Linked DNA regions of Homo sapiens: region 2 is linked to region 1. A link means that fine-mapping ties the variant in region 1 to the expression of a gene that starts in the linked region. Tissue or cell type: thyroid. Region 1 holds a variant in brackets; the other region holds the start of a gene. All regions are shown on one strand. Distances are between the middles of the regions.

Evidence for each region. PIP is the estimated chance that this variant, and not a neighbour inherited with it, causes the effect.
Region 2: it holds the start of DGCR5, and the variant in region 1 is fine-mapped to the expression of DGCR5 in thyroid (GTEx, PIP 0.94).

The regions. Positions count from the first base shown.
Region 1 is chr22:18,937,168-18,945,724 of GRCh38, reverse strand. LOC122455341 (a long non-coding RNA gene) reads right to left here. Exons shown (of 4, transcript NR_173080.2): 2 at 8,258-8,373; 3 at 5,976-6,052. Among named protein-coding and RNA genes, the nearest start is that of PRODH, 5.2 kb to the right of the region's middle. RefSeq lists enhancers at 6,366-6,873, 6,735-7,029, 5,988-7,052, a silencer at 6,735-7,029 and a promoter at 5,988-8,557. The variant C/T (reference allele first, on the strand shown) is at 3,502.
Region 2 is chr22:18,966,216-18,974,772 of GRCh38, reverse strand. It overlaps DGCR5 (DiGeorge syndrome critical region gene 5), which reads right to left and starts at 4,305. Exons shown (of 6, transcript NR_110533.2): 1 at 4,115-4,305. RefSeq lists an enhancer at 4,393-5,224.

The DNA.
Region 1 (8,557 bases):
ACTTTCTGTTAAGTCGCTATCAACAGCTGGACTCACTTGTGCACTTGGACATGACTGAGTTTGTCCTGAGCAATTGTGGTAGAATTGACCTCGAGGTGCCCAATCTATAATAGTTCCGAATTCATTGTTTTGTAATATCACCGCACTATTGGCCACACATTCTTCCCAAACTAAAACTTCTGTATTTTTTGATTCTTTGGGAATTTCCTTGGGGCAAGGTTTCCCTTTAGGTCTAAATTTTAATGATCTTTGATAAGGAAAGTCTTGTAAATAATTTACCCGTGGCCTGAGTGACATCCCGCTTACCATGTGATAAGTGAATCTACTGATGGGACTGACAATAGGTACTTCTACCAACCAATTTTGGACTGCAGGCATTAAACATCCTGGTGCTGTCCCTAAGCAAATAGGAGGATAACGATACCCAATGGAAATATTTATCATCATCCCTTCTTCCTCAGGTTTGGCAGGGCAGCGATCATCTGTGGGGCCAGGTACCCATTCGCTATCATTAACATATACTTCTATAGGATTATCCATCCATGTGACTGGTGTTACCATCTCCGCGGAGGCCCTTTTCTTTGCATCTCCGATGGGTTCATTGTAGAACTTCAAATGTCTAGTGGGTATCCAAACAGGAAGCTGATTTTCTCCTGGTGAAACACAAGCAAAACCTCTCCCCCACGTTATCACCTTCCCTATTTCCCATGTCTTATTTTTATTATCTTTCCACCAAATTAGTTTTCCTTCATGTGGGCTGTTCTTTTTACCAGTAAGATGTTGTTCTGCAGAAGTAGTAGTCTGATTTCTATAAATGTTTAAAAAATTTAAAGTATAGAGTGCTAGATTAAGTTGCATCTGAGGAGTGGTACACTCCTTACTGTCTCCCCCTTCTTTTTGTTTAACTAATTGAGTTTTGAGTGTTCTATTAGTTCTTTCAACTATGGCCTGTCCTTGGGAATTATAAGGAATTCCTGTTGTATGTGAAATTTTCCACTGACTTAAGAATTTTTGGAAAGCTTTACTACAATATCCTGGTCCATTGTCAGTTTTGATTTTTTCTGGAACTCCCATTACAGCAAAACAAGACAATAAATGTTTTTTAACATGGGAAGTACTTTCTCCTGTTTGGCAAGTTGCCCATATGAAATGTGAATAAGTATCAACTGTTACATGAACATATGATAATCTTCCAAATGAAGGTACATGCGTGACATCCATTTGCCATAATGCATTAGGACACAGACCTCTGGGATTAACTCCTGCCTCTTGAGTGGGCAGGTGTAAGACTTGACACTGGGTGCAATGTTGTACAATATCTTTTGCCTGTTTCCATGTGACATCAAATTTGTTTTTTAATCCTGCTGCATTTACATGAGTCAAAGCATGAAGTTCTTGTGCTTTTATGAGTGCAGATGATACCAGTAAGTCAGCTTGTTCATTTGCTTTAGTCAAAGGCCCTGGTAAATTAGTGTGTGCTCGAATATGAGTAATATAAAATGGGAAATTTCTTTTTCTTACAGTTTGTTGTAATAAATTGAATAGCTGGTTTAACTGATCATCCATGCTATATTTAATTAGAGCCGTCTCAACATCCCTTGTAGCCTGTACTACATAGGCAGAATCTGATATAATATTGATAGGTTGGTCAAAATCTTGTAACACTGTAATGACTGCAACCAACTCTGCTCTTTGAGCCGATTGATATGGAGTTTTGATTACTCGTTCTTTCGGCCCTGTGTAAGCTGCTTTTCCATTGCTGGAACCATCAGTAAATACTGTTAGAGCATTTTCTAAAGGTTCACGTCTGGTTATTTTAGGTAGAATCCAAGTAGTCAATTTTAAGAACTGGAAGATCTTTGTTTTTGGGTAATGATTATCAATAATTCCCACAAAATTAGCAAGACCAATCTGCCATGCACCAGAATTGATAAAGGCTTGTCTAACTTGTTCCTTGGTTAAAGGGACAACTATTTTGTCTTGGTCATTTCCACATAATTTTATTATTCGTAATCTTGTCTGACCGATTAATGTAGCCATTTGATCCAAGTACAATGTAAAAGTCTTAACTGTACTGTGAGGAAGGAATGACCACTCCACAAGATCAGTATTTTGAATAATGATGCCTGTTGGAGAATGTGCAGTGGCAAAAATCAAAAGCTGGAGTGGGGCTAAGGGATCTATTCTATTTATTTGCGCTGACTGAATTTTTTCTTCCACTAATTTAATTTCTTTTGTTGCCTCTGGGGTTAATATTCTTTTACTATTTAAGTCTGAGTCTCCTCTTAAGATAGAGAACAAATTTGACATGGCATAAGTAGGAATGCCTAGAGTTGGCCGAATCCAATTAATATCTCCTAGTAATTTTTGAAAATCATTTAGTGTTTTTAATGTATCTTTTCTTATTTCTATTTTTGTGGCTTAATTTTTCTATTTTCTATCTGCATCCCTAAATAATGAAAAGGAGTAGAGGTTTGGATCTTATCAGATGCTATTGCCAGTCCAGCATTGGCAACCTCTGCTTGCAGAAATGTATAACAGTCAATTAATTTATCTTTCGTTTCTGCAGCACATAAAATATCATCAATATAATGAATAATATAACAGTCTGAAAACTTTTCTCTAACTGGTTGAAGAGCTCGACCTACAAAAGTCTGACAAATAGTTGGACTATTAAGCATTCCCTGAGGTAACACTTTCCACTGAAACCTGGTGGCTGGTTCTTTATTATTTATGGCTGGTATAGTAAAGGCAAATTTTTCACAATCCTGCTCTGCCAGAGGGATGGTAAAAAAGCAATCCTTTAGATCAATTATAATTAAAGGCTAATCTTTTGGGATTATGGCCGGAGAGGGCAACCCGGGTTGGAGAGGCCCCATGGGTTGAATTAAGGCGTTTACGGCCCTTAAGTCAGTTAACATACGCCATTTGCCTGATTTCTTCTGAATTACAAACACAGGAGAATTCCAAGGTGAGAACGAAGGCTCAATATGACCCTTTTCTAACTGTTCATTTACTAATAAATGTAAAGCCTCCAGTTTTTGTTTTGGTAGCGGCCACTGATTTACCCACACCGGTTTTTCTGTTTTCCAAGTTAATGGTATGGGTTTAGGAGGCTCTATAGTGGCCGCCCCTAAAAAGGATACCCTATTCCTTCTCTTTTTTGATTTATTTTAGCCTCAAATGGAATTTTAATGCCATCTTCATTTTTCCCTAGTCCCTTTCCTGGTATATATCCCATCTTGGTCATGATTTTTTGACTCGTGGGGCTATATAATGGAGCGGGCATGGTGATTTCCGCACCCCATTGTTGTAATAAATCTCAACCCCACAGATTAAGAGGAATTGAAGTAATCATTGGCTGAACAGTACTTTCTTGATTATCTGGCCCTAAGCAATGTAAAATCTCCGTACTTTGATACACTTCTGAGGCTGTGCCTATGCCGACAAGTCCTGTAACAGCCTTTTGTTTAGGCCAATTTTTTGGCCACTGATTTAAAG[C/T]AATGATAGAGACATCTGCTCCAGTGTCTACCAACCCTTCAAACTGTTTTCCTTGAATAATGGCCTTACACACAGGTCTGTTCTCTGAGACCTGACTTGCCCAATATGCAGCCTTTCCTGTTGGATCAGTGCTTCCAAGCCCTCCTATTTTTTTTAGTTCACTATTTCCACCCTTAATATATGGCAGGAGTAATAATTGAGCACTCCTGTCTCCTGGACTGGCACTCCAAGGAATTGAAGAGCTAATAACCAACTGAATTTCGCCTTTATAGTCTGAATCAACCACACTAGTATGAATTTGAACTCCTTTTAGATTTAGACTTGATCTTCCTAAGATTAGTCCTACAGTCCCCTCAGGCAGGGGGCCATATACCCCTGTGGGGATTTTTTGTGGGGGCTCCCCTGGAAGCAGAGAGACTGCTTGTATAGTACATAAATCTACTGCTGCACTGCTGCTTGTGGCAGGGGACAATTGTTGTATTGTGGTAACTGGCTTATTCCCTGAAACACTTGGGACAGTGGGGGTTGTTGTCCCTGAAAACCCTGAGGAACAAATGGCTGAATTGGGAATGCCCCAGTTTGTTGTGGGGCCTGAGGCTGGCCCCTTTGCTCGTTTCCCGACAATGGTTGCCCATTTTTATCAAATTTAGAACGACATTGACTAGCCCAATGTTTTCCTTTTTTACATCTTGGACATAAGTCAGGTGGCTCTCTACCTGTTGTAGTTGCTTGAATAGTTATATTCTGTTTGTTTAAGACTGGGCAATTCTTTTTTAAGTGACCAATTTGACCACAATTATAACATTTTCCTCCAAATGTTCTAACTTGTCCTCCTAAAACAACTCCTGTTATTGCTTGAGCCATAAGCATAGCTTTATGCATAGCTCCTCCGATTCCATCACAGGCTTTTACATATTCTGAGATTACATCTGATCCTGCAGGAACCTTTCCTTTTAATGGCTTAATGGCTGATTGACACTCAGGATTGGCGTTTTCATATGCCATCAACTCCACTATGACCTTACGGGCTTTTTCATCGGCAATTGACTTTTGAGCAACATCTTGGAGCCTTGCCACAAAATCAGGATAGGGCTCTTTTGAACCTTGTCTTACTGTATTAAATGAGGGGCAGGCACTTCCTGGGTCTTGGATTTTTTCCCAGGCTCTAAGGCAGATAGCTCTAACTTGCTCAATGGCCTCATTTTGCATTAATGCTTGTTGACTAATAGTACTCCAATTTTGACCTATTCCTAATAGTTGATCTGCATCTATGTTAACTGGAGGATTGGCAGCCCTATTTCTTCGGACCTGTTCTTGTACCCCATCAATCCACCAAGTCTTAAATTGTAAAAATTGAGAGGGTGAGAGAGACGATTTTGCCAGAATCTCCCAATCATAAGGAATGAGTCTATGTCCATAAGCAATGGAATCTAATAATGTCCTCATATAAGGGGAGTTGGGTCCATACTGTTTTACTCCCTCTTTCATATCTTTTAGCATTTTTATCGAAAAAGACTTGTATCTGGCCTCAACTGTGGGAGGCTCTCCCTCTTGGGCTCCTTCTCCAGGTGGCATCGGTTCTAACGTTACTGGGAATTGCCATGCCTCAGTATCTCCTTCCTTTCTTGATTTATCAATAATTTCATGTAATTCACTACCCTGTCTACTAGGTGGTGCCGTAGGATTAAGTCTCCTAGTGGGCGGCTGAGGGTATGGCGCCCTGCCCTGTGGTGCTGGGGGCATTCCTGGATATCCATACTGACTTTCTGGGGGTGGCCGATACTGAAGTTCAGCCGGAGGCCAGTATTGATAGGCTACTGGCGGTTGGGTCTTATTTTCTTTAACCTGCTTTTGAGGTTGTAATGTTACGGGCACCTGACCTGCTGGAAGAGGACTTGTCCCTCGTGGTTTAGACTCTGATGGCCCCACTAATTCTGGACCTTTTCCTTCTAATTTTAACGTTTCAGGATATATCACCTCCTGTAATTGATTATAGTCAACATTTTGCGTTGACTGAGCCATTACCGGCTCTGCTACATATTCGCAATGTAAACTTTCCGTTTCTTTCTGGGATTTTTTCCTTGTCTTTTCATTACAATCTATTAAACAGCTTCCAGGGGCATCAGAAACTGAAACGCTATCTTCTTCTGTTTGAAATGGTTCTAAAGCTGCTTTAATAATGGCCCAATCATTCCATACTGTAAGTGGAATGATATTACCCTTCCTACCTGCTTGTTTTAGTTCCTTACCAATTCTTTTCCAATCTTTTAGATCTAAAGTTCCTTGTTCTGGAAACCATGGGCAAAATTGTTCTATTATTTGAAATAGCTTGATTAGATTTTTTGTAGATACTTTAACTCCCCCTCTTTTTAAAAGAATTTTAATAAAGCTGAGATAAGAGGCATATTTACTTTTAATTTTACTTTTAGTTTGCCCCATTATCACCCTAGCTTCTTCCGAGCGCACAAGCTTACCGTAAGGCTGACTGTAGACGTACTCGGGATCTCTCGTCGACTTGTCCTCAATGACCACGCTCGAGCGTACCTTCACCCTAGAGAAAAGCCTCCATGTTGGGCACCAGATGTAGGGGTGGGTTGCCCCTACACACCTGTGGGTGTTTCTCGTAAGGTGGGACGAGAGATTTGGAAAAGAAAAAGACACAGAGACAAAGTATAGAGAAAGAAATAAGGGGAACCGGGGAACCAGCGTTCAGCATATGGAGGATCCCGCCAGCCTCTGAGTTCCCTTAGTATTTATTCATCATTTGTGGGTGTTTCTCGAAGAGGGGGATGTGTCAGGGTCACAAGACAATTGTGGGGAGAGGGTCAGCAGACAAACACGTGAACAAAGGTCTTTGCATCATAGACAATGTAAAGGATTAAGTGCTGTGCTTTTAGATATGCATACACATAAACATCTCAATGCTTTACAAAGCAGTATTGCTGCCCGCAGGTCCCACCTCCAGCCCTAAGGCGGTTTTTCCCTATCTCAGTAGATGGAGCATACAATCGGGTTTTATACCGAGACATTCCATTGCCCAGGGACAGGCAGGAGACAGATGCCTTCCTCTTGTCTCAACTGCAAGAGGCATTCCTTCCTCTTTTACTAATTCTCCTCAGCACAGACCCTTTACGGGTGTCGGGCTGGGGGACGGTCAGGTCTTTCCCTTCCCACGAGGCCATATTTCAGACTATCACATGGGGAGAAACCTTGGACAATACCTGGCTTTCCTAGGCAGAGGTCCCTGCGGCCTTCCGCAGTTTTTGTGTCCCTGGGTACTTGAGATTAGGGAGTGGTGATGACTCTTAAGGAGCAGGCTGCCTTCAAGCATCTGCTTAACAAAGCACATCCTGCACCGCCCTTAATCCATTTAACTCTGAGTTGACACAGCACACGTTTCAGAGAGCACGGGGTTGGGGGTAAGGTTATAGATTAACAGAATCTCAAGGCAGAAGAATTTTTCTTAGCACATAACAAAATGGAGTCTCCTATGTCTACTTCTTTCTACACAGACACAGTAACAATCTGATCTCTCTTGCTTTTCCCCACACTGGGTAACACAGCCAGACCCTGTCTCCACAAAAAAATATTTTTTAAAAATTAGCTAGGTGCAGTCCAGCCTGTAGTCCCAGCTACTTGGGAGGTTGAGGCAGGGGGATCACTTGAGCCCAGGTGTCAGGCCTCTGAGCCCAAGCTAAGCCATCATATCCCTTGTGACCTGCACGGATACATCCAGATGGGCTGAAGCAACTGAAGATCCACAGAAGAAGTGAAAATAGCCTTAACTGATGACATTCCACCATTGTGATTTGTTTCTGCCCCACCCTAACTGATCAATGTACTTCATAATCTCCCCCACCCTTAAGAAGGTTCTTGGTAATTCTCCCCACCCTTGAGAAGGTACTTTGTGAGATCCACCCCTGCCCCCAGAACATTGCTCTTAACTCCACTGCCTATCCCAAAACCTGTAAGAACTAATGATAATCCCACCACCCTTTGCTGACTCCTTTTTTGGACTCAGCCTGCCTGCACCCAGGTGAAATAAACAGCCTTGTTGCTCATACAAAGCTGGTTGGTGGTCCCTTCACAGGGACACATGAGACACCAGGAGTTCAAGGCCACAGTGAGCTGTGATCACATGGCTGCACTCCAGCTTGGGCAACAGAGAGAGACCCTGTCTCTTAAAAAAAAAAAAAAAAAAAGCCATCAGCTGGCTCAGGGTAGCCACCTGCCAAGGGTCCCCAGCTGAGCCTAAGACCTGCTTCCTAGGATTTACAGAGCTCCTGTGAAACTCGGTTGTTTCATTGATTGTCACATGGAGCCAGTGACTTTCAGGCCAGCCTTGTTCCCACAGGTGCCCTCACAGGTGGGCTCTCCCGTGGGCCTGGGCACCCAGCGCTAGGCCTGCTCTGCTATGGTCTGGACGTGAGTGGTGATCTCTGTGATCCCTGCACCCCTCGCTTCTCCCCCTGCCCTCTCTGCAGCCCTGCCCCTGGCAGCCCCTGCCCACCTTTGCCTCTGTGCAGGGCCACAGGCTTCCTTGAAGCAAATGCTAGAACTTTGCTTTTTTAAAAAAATATAACAGCTTTATTGAGATATTGAATGGTTTTTTAGTCTATACACAAGGTTGAGCAAACATCACCACTCTCTAGCCCCAGAGTATTTCCGGACCCCAAAGAAACTCCGTGGGCCTTGGCAGCCCCTCCCACTCCTCCCGTCCTCCACCTCCAGGCACCACTGCCAGTGCCATACTCACCAGGCTCCACTATGGGCTTGTCTTCGTGTGACTTCTGTCTCTATCGATTTGTCTATTCTGAACTCTTCATATAAAACGAACCATACAACTTGTGGCCGTTTGTGTCCGGAATCTTTCTTTAAAAAAAAAAATTCACCGGGCGTGGTGGCTCACGCCTGTAATCCCAGCACTCTGGGAGGCGGAGGCGGGCGGATCACAAGGTCAGGAGATCAAGACCATCCTGGCTAACACGGTGAAACCCCGTCTCTACTAAAAACATAAAAAATTAGCCAGGCTTGGCAGGCGCCTGTAGTCCCAGCT
Region 2 (8,557 bases), 29 kb before region 1:
TGGATGCCCAGACTCTACTCACTCACCATCACCCACCCGGCCAGCCCACGGTTGTCAAAGGCCTCAGCTGGCTAGGAGGGGCGGGATCTGGCCCTGCTGCCGAGTCCCCTGAAATCAGCTCAAGCATCAGGGGAGAGGCACGTGACCAGCCCCTAGACCTGGTGGGTGCCAGCTGAGGACATGGTGGGGTGGGTGTGCAGAGCTGCATCTCCCGGTGCCCAGCTCCACGGCTGCAGGCAGTGCAGGAGGCCGGTGCAGGTTTGGATAAATAAATGATGGTGCATTCTCAGGAAGGGATTCCACACACACCAGAAAACCCACGATGCACAAGAATAGTTCCCGATGTGCAAAGTGTTTAAAATACAGCGATAAAAGAAGAAACGGCAGCACAGAACAACTGGTGTGGGGAACCCAGCTGGGCCCCAGGGACAGTGCAGGGAGATTTGCAGGGTGGGGTAGCATGCCCGCCACTCCGATCGGGCTTCCCCGGGGCCACTCTGTTACCTCCTATCCTTTAAAGCATTTAATCCTAGAGATGCACGATGCCAAGGATTGCACCCCTTGATTTGCCTGGCTCAGAAGAGAATCTGACAGGCTAGGAACGAACAAGCAAATGAATGAACAAATGAGAAAGTGAACGGACAGTTGGGGCAAATGCAGCATCTGGGATCTGGCTTCGAGGAGGGTGCCTGTGACCTTGGCCTGGGTGCAGCCAGGCTGCAGAGCAGGGACACTGAGGGGTGCAGAGAGGGCCCCGAGAGGGCATCTGCACAGCTGCAGAGGCAGCAGGCAGCCAGGCCGGCTCCTGCAGACCCCAAAGCCCAGGCCCTGGGTGGCTGCAGAGGGTCAGGCAGGCCAGCCTGGGGATCAGAGGTCAGGCTTGCCAGAATGGGGGCGGGACGGCATGAACCTCATTGATCAGACAGTAGCCAAGCGTCGGGAGCCCTCACTAACCCTGTGCCAGGGCCGGGCAGGGCGCCTGGCTCACACATGCATTTGTTCATTTCCAGGTCATCCTGAAACTCCCCGTATGCTTCCTGTTCTTGACCCCTTTCCCAGGTGCACAGACCAAGGCTCCCGGTGAGAGGTTCCGGGCCACAGGCCCAGGACAGCAGGAGGGCTCCTCTGCCTCCCACCCGTCCTGTCCTCACCAGCTGGACCCTCCTGGTGTTGCACCGGCTGCACAGGGCCGTCCGTGCCACAAAGCATGAATTCAAGGCTGGGGCAGGGACGAGGAGAGGGCAGTGCTACAAGGCTGCACTGTCCTTGGGCAGAGGGAGGCGGAGGGCACGGTCCCACATGCCCTGGCCCTCACAGCCTGCCTGTCACTCACAGCAACAGCAAACAAACCCCAGCCCCTCCACAGGCTGTGGGCCAGTCCCCAGCCTCCCAGGACAACAGGACCTTCCCCCACCTTCCAGGGCCCCAGCCCCTGTGGGGGTGTCCTCCATAGACCCTCCACAAGCCCTCTGGCTTTCAGAGACCTGCTGGGCCAGGCCCTCCCTCAACCTCTCCCCTGCTTCTCACTCCATGCAAACCTACGTTTCTGCCAGTCCCAGTGGAAGGACCCTGGCACAGGGAAACTGAGGCTCAGGGGTTCCACAGACCCCCAGGTGAGGAACAGGGGGAGGGCAGGGAGGGAGTGAAGGTACTATGGGAGGGTCTCCCAAGCTGGGCAGCATCCCTGCCCTGTCCCCTCTCCACTCACCTGTGGCCTGAGTTGCCTGACTAGGGGCTTTTATTGTCCCTTCTGCAAATGGATGGGGTGAGGGGCCAGCTGGCCATGCAAAGGTCCCAGGAGGACTCTGCTGAGTTGGGGTGTGGGGAGGTGTTCTGGGCATTCTGAGGCAGAAGCACCAGAGTCGGAACTCCACAGGGAAAGCCGGGCCAATTCCGCCCAGCCTCAGCCTGGAAGTGCCCCGATAATCCCTGACCACTGGCCCATGGTGCAGGTGAGGAAGACTGAGGCAGAGAGGTGACCTGTCACACCCAAGGTCACACTGCCAGCAGGTGGCTGAGCCAGGACCCAAATCCAGGTCACGGTTCTGCCACGGCAGGCCCTGCACGTGCCCCTCTGCCAGGTGGGGTCTAGGTGCTGATGGCCACCCATTCCCACCCCCGGCATGGGAGCTCACTTCCTCCTCACCTCAGTAGAGAAGAACAGGGAACAGTACCCCCTTTATAGATGGGAAGACTGAGGCTTAGAAAAAGAGACTGGCCAGCCCCACTGCTTCAGCTGCCCCTCTGCTAGTATGTTTCACCCTCACACAACCTACAAGGATAACCTGCTGGTCCCCACTCTATAGATGAGCCTCTGGTGGTGGCCAGGGGAGCAGGAGGTGTGGCCTGCCAATTGAAGCCCCAGCCCAGGGCCCTTGCCACAGTGCTAGTGGGCCACCCTTGCCCATCATGCAGCATGGCATCCATCTGCTCAGCACCCTACACAACACCGGAGGTAGGGGAGCCCACCACGGAACCCCTCACCAAGAAGGTCCTCACCATGGAGAAACTGAGGTACTGGAGGCGGGGCCTCTGCAGTCACGCTGGGTCACGTGCTCCAGTCAGCCAAGCTGCAGCGGCCACCAAGGGTGCCCAGGGTCTGGCCTGTTGGTCACAGTGTTGACCTCATGGCCTGAAATGGGTCTTCCCTGACCAGACAGGTTCCAGCCCACCATCATCTATCACTGCCTCAGCCCTGGTGGGTGCGGAGTGGCTGGGAGACCCTGCCCCTCACACCCTGGGCTGGGGGCATTCAATGAGCCCCCAACACACATTCCAGGGCCTCTGCTCCAGATTAGGCCACAGCCTGTCTAGGCACACAAGGGGCACCCACACCCTGGAGGCAAAGAGACATATGCCTATGTGCTCGCAGGCACACATGATCACGCGCACAGACACACGTGCAGATGCATACCAAGTTACACACACGCACACACGCCCGAGGCGGGGACCCCCAGGACACGGAGGCAGGCAGGCAGAGGTGGGGCCCAGGATGTCTTGCCCCTGTCTGTGGGCCTGGCCTCCCCACTCAACAGACGAGCATGTGGGTGCGGGAGTGGGTATTGTGAAAGGGGCCCCAGCATGTGCCACCCGTGGAGACCACAGCAGGCATGTCGCGTACATGCATGTGTGGCCGTGGGCGTGCAAGCGGGGGCGAGGACACAGATATGCACCCTCAGAGTCCGTGTGTGCACCCAGTGTTCGTGCATGTGTACACTGGGGTGGCGCTGGCACGCATGTGCACCAGAGGTGTGCAAGTGTGCAGTCCGTGTAGACATGTGCACGTGCAAGGAAACGTGTGTGCAGCCTGCGACACCATGGACATCAGCAGGGCAGCCTGGGTGGGCACCTGGGGAGCACCCTCCAGGCAGGGCATGCCCAACTCACATGGAGCCCACCCTCCCTTGCCCCCCACTGCGGGACCTCACACCCAGTGGGGCGGGGGAGTCTCACGAAGGCTGCCAGGGAGGGGATGCTGATTGCCCCACCACCCCTGATTCCCCCAGCCAAGCCTCTCAATGTCCCTCGGGCTGCGGATGTCTGGGCATTGCTGCCTCCTCTCACCGCCCGCCCTGGAGGCAGCGTTGGGACAACCTTGTCCCCCACGCCCTCTACTGCCGCCAACGCCCCCATTGATCCCCCTGAGGCCTGACCTCAGAAAAACGGGAGGTTCTGAGCCCAGTCCGCGAGGCGGGGGCGGAGGCGGCCCGATACCTCCACCTACTCTCGGTACCCGCGTTTCTGCAAAAAAACCCGCTCATTAACCCCTTCGTGGCCGCGGCGCCGAGGCCGGACCCCGTCCTTCCAGCCCGCGGCCCCCACCCCGGACCTGGCCCAGCCTCGGGGACCCCCGGGCCGCCACCCCCGGCCCCGCCATCGCCGTCAACTTACCCGGGAAGCGGCAACTTTTCCTGCTGCCTCCGGCTCCGCCCTCCCGGGGCCGGGGCGCCCTTGGCCCCAGCCTGGCGCGGCACTGCGGTGGCCCTCCCGGCCGCCCGGCTACGCTTCCCCAGCCTTGGAAGCCCTGGACGGGCCCTGCGGCTCCGAGGAGGGGCGAACCACCCCGCTCTGCGCCCCGCCGCCTGCTGGGCTCTGGCGCCGCGTGGACACTCACCTCCAGTGGACGCCCTCTTCATCATAGGGGTCAGGCGGAGCGGGTCGGGGACCGAAAGTCGCTTCGGGGCGGGCGCCAGTCTCCGGCCCAGCCCCGGGCCGGCATCCAGGCGCCGCCGCTCCGGCCCAGCCCCGGCCCGGCAGCGGGTCTAGGCTCCGCGCGCTCCGCTCCGCCCGGCTCGGGCGGGGCTCGGGCCGCGGGCGCGCAGGGCGCGGGAGGCGGCGGCGGGCGGGGCCCTCACCTGGGCGCAGGCGCCTGCCTGGGCGGGGGCTGGGGGGCGCGGGCCTGGGCGGGGGCTGGGGGGCGCGGGCCCAAGTTGGGGCGTGAGCGGCGCGGCTGGCCGGGGAGCGTAGGCCGGGCAGCAGGAGGTGCTCAGCCCACCCGGCCCTAGACAAAGCCGCGCATTCCTGAAGAGGCGGCGGCCCTGCAGGCGGCGGAGGGGATGGCGGCTGGGGCCATTGAGGCCTGGGGATGGCCTCTGCGCGACCCACTCGCTTCCTGGCCTCACGAAACCCATGAACCCCCCGCCCCCCCCCGCCCCCTGCACAGAAGCCCCTTGCTGGAGCACGATCGCCCCCATTTTTCAGTAAGAAACAGGCTCAAGGCTTAAGAGCGTTCTGGGGGCCCTCTTGGGCCTTTGTGGCCCTCTCTGCACCACCCCAGGGAGGGGACCCAGGCCTGATGTTACCCATAACCCTGCAGGGGTCCCCCACCTCTTCCTTCCTGCGGAATGTGGCCTCCAAACCCAGAAGACGCTCTCCGAGGCCGCCTGCTTAGTATCATCCCCCACTCTACTAAGCCAGCCCCCAGCGGGGCCGGGGGGGCGTCATGGAGCCAGAGAACCCAGTGACACCCCTACACACACCACACAGGGTGGGGGTGTTCCTTCTCCGTCTTCTGCTCGGGGGGCATCCGATGATGATGAGCTCCTAAGCCCATCCCGGGGTCTTCAGACAACTGCCAGGCTGTCCCTGCACCTGGAGGAGTGCTGGGAGTCAGCTCAGCTGGGCTGGGTCCTCCCCAGGCCCACCCTGCATGACAGGACCAGGGTCTTGCAGGCCAACCTGGTGTCAGTCTGTAGGACCCTGACTCAAGGACGGAGTGGGCCAGCCTGAGGTCTTGATGGCTCCCCTCAGAGCCCAGGTCCACTGATATGAAGCAGAGAGACCTGGTGACTGGGCAGCCCTGTGCTCTCTGCCTGCCCCTGGCCATGGAGGTGGCCCTGAGGGAGATGAGCAGGGCACAGGGCTGGTGACCTGCCTGCCTTGTCCAGAGGAAGTGAGGACCTCCCAGAGCCCTGGTGCTCCCATCTGATCCCAGTGGCAGGCAGCTTCCCAGGGTGGAGCCATGCTGGCCGGGCCCTCTGCCTGGTGTGGAGGCTGCACTGCCCACATGCCTCTGGCTGCCGCTCTGTGGCCCTCATCACCTTGGCCTGCTTTATCCCTATCACCCTTGTCCCAGCCTAGGCTTATGAGGGCATTGTGGAGTGCATGCCATTCCCAGCCACACAGAAGGTGAGGTGGGGCCCAGACACCCCCAGCCACTCTGTCCCCTGGCCTCCTGAAGGGGTGGGCTGTGCACACACTGCCACCTCCCCAGAGGGTGCTGGCTGCCGAGTGCCACCAGCTCAGCCCCTGAGGTGGCTCAACAGGTCCTCCCAGAGCCACACCAAGATGTCATCACCCATTGCACAGATGGGGAACCTCAGGCGAAGCTGACAGAGCCAGTGGGAGGCTGAGGCCTGACCCCTAAACAAGCATTCTTCCTCCAGGGTCCCTGCACGCAGCAGCCCCTAGACTAGGAACTGAGCTCTCACCACAGGGATGTATCAGACCCTAGATGAGTCATGAGGCACTGACCATCAGTCTGAGGACAGCGCTGGGGTGGACCAGGCTCCAGTCTCGGGCTGCTCTGTGCTTGCAGAGAGGGCTTGAGAGGACACTTGCGTGCTTACTATGCAGGCGTCTCTTCAATTACCAGTGACCCAGAGCGGCCCACTACAATTGAAGATTGTGACCCCACACCCTATCTCATAGGTTTAAAGCCCCTCCCACCCCTCCTGCAGCAGCCAAAGTGACCATTCTGGGGCATGGGATGGGCATGGGGGGAAATGGGGAGCCAGGGCTAACCTGGAGGCTTCTGGCACCACAGCCCTCTCCAGCCATCAAGTCCGGCTGTTCCCAGCTGCTCTGGGCTGGGACCTGGGCCTCCACCTCCCCACCTGTCTGTGCAGTGGGAGCAGGCCCAAGGCCCACAGAGGGAGCGCTGGGGGACCGGCTGGTTTCCTGTGTCCGCCACCTCGGTCAGCACCTTGGCCAGCGCCCTCCCCACTGGAAGCTGAGCCCACTCCTGGGTGCTAGCTGGAACGATTAGGTGTGGGCCAGCGCTGATAGGGAGTTATGGGGGTGCAGAGGCAGAGTTGAGCAGGGCTAGGCAGCCGGTCGGTCTGCTACCAGCAAGGCACAGCCCGCTTCTCAGGCTGTGCATGTGGGAGGGTTTGGTAAGCCACATTTTTCAGGGTGTAGCCAGGTCGGGGGGCAGCATGGGGAGTGGTGTACTCTCTGGGCAGGCGACCGCGGAGCCATCACCCCCCCAGGGCCCAACGGGCAAGGGAGGGAGGGCAGCTGACGGCTGGTGAGGGGCTAGCAGGGAGGGCTTGACAAGGGCTGGAGCCCCTGGTCAAGGGGCACAGCCAGTTCTATCGGGTCACCTCATGGGAGGAGCCAGGGACCCTGTGGGCAGAGCCTGGCCGTCTGCTGCCCGGAGTCTACACCAGTCAGTTCCTAGGAAGCCCCAGCAGGGGTGCTGGGAGGACAGGCCATCTGTGCCCAGCTGATGCAAGCTCCCAGGCTTTCTGGACACGTGGCCCTGGGGATCAGGAGTGAGCTGGAGACTGCAGACAGCTGTGACCTCAGGGCTGGGCAGACCTGTCACACCCTGCCTGGACTGGGTCAGCAGGGCCACACGGGCATCTGCCCGAATCGTTCCCCACCTCACACCCACCATGTAGGGCACATCCTTTGCCAGCTTCCCCAGCCCACCACCCCCCTCCAGTGAGGCCAGGGGCTGCCTCACCTCCCACCCCCACCCCCAACCTGGGGCTCGGCCTCCACGACCAGCATGCCGGTCATGAGGGCCCTGCCCAGCTGTGTGACCTCGGCCCAGCCCCTTGGCCTCGCTGAGCTTGCACAGCATGTGGACGAGGCAGACGCTAATGCCTCAGGGCCTGGTCAGCTGGTCACTGTCCCTCCTTTGTTCACCCCTCCTGTCCCCTGAGAGGATCATGCAGGGTTTTCACTCAAAACTCCATGCCTGCCCATAGAAGCCAGCTTGAGATGAGGGGACCTTTCGCAGTGGCCCGTCTTGGGCTGACAGGGACACGGTTCAGCCTCCTTGGAAGGTCCCTTCTTCCCAGGGCTTCGGGAGGCTCATCTCCCGCCTGGAGAGATAGGCGTGCCATGGCTTTCCTTGGCATGCCTGTGCGGTTCTCACGGACATCCAGGCCCTCGGTGTCTCCTGGGGAGGGATGGGCAGCAAGGAAATTGGGTCTTTGCTCCACACATTCTGGGCCACTCCAGGCCAATGCAAGGAGAGACCAGGAAGGAAGCTAGAAGGTCATGCGGCAAGCACATGCCTGCTGCCCAAGCGTGTCAATGTGACCAACCCTTCCCTGCACTCTGAGTGGGCGGCTAGGGATGTGGTCCCGGTGCCAGGGAGCTGGGGGGCGTCAGCCTGCCATCTGCTCTCACCACAGAGGGTGGCTGCATGCCCAAGGCCCGAGAGGACTCTGTGCCAGGCCTGCTGAGTGAGTCATCCCATTCAGTCCTGCAGTGTAGACACTACTACCACCACCCATTTTCCAGACCAGAGAAGGAGGTCTGGGGAGCTTAGGTGGACCCACGTCTTGGCAGCCTCTCTCAGCCCTCTCTTTGCCCACAGCCTCTGCCTCCTCCAGAAGCCTCTCACCATCCCCCATCCCCAGGGCTGCAGAGGGTGTCCTGGTCTTCCCCCATCAGTTCTGCACCCCTGAGGACTCCCATCCCTAGGAGTCCCTCTGCCCAACTTTGGTGCATGTTAAGCCATAATTAATATGCTTCCTCATCTCTTATTCATCAAAGCCACACGCAGCAGCAAAGGGGGCTGGCACAAGGAAGGGACCGACAACCAAATCCTGGCAGTGGCCCCAAGAATCCCACTGGGCCTGCCCATCTCCAAATGCCTCTGACCCTTCACTAGCAAGGGCCTCCTCCCACAGGGCTGCCTCCCCCAGCCCTGGACTGGATCCCTTGTGGCCCATCTCCAGGATGGGAACCTGAACAGAGATGAAAGGACACTCGACCAAGTGGGACATGCCAGGCTGGCACCTGGACCCCTGGTCCACCACTCTTCCTGGTGCCCAGAGGAAGGGGTGAGTCCCCAGGGTTCCTGGACCTTGAGATGAGC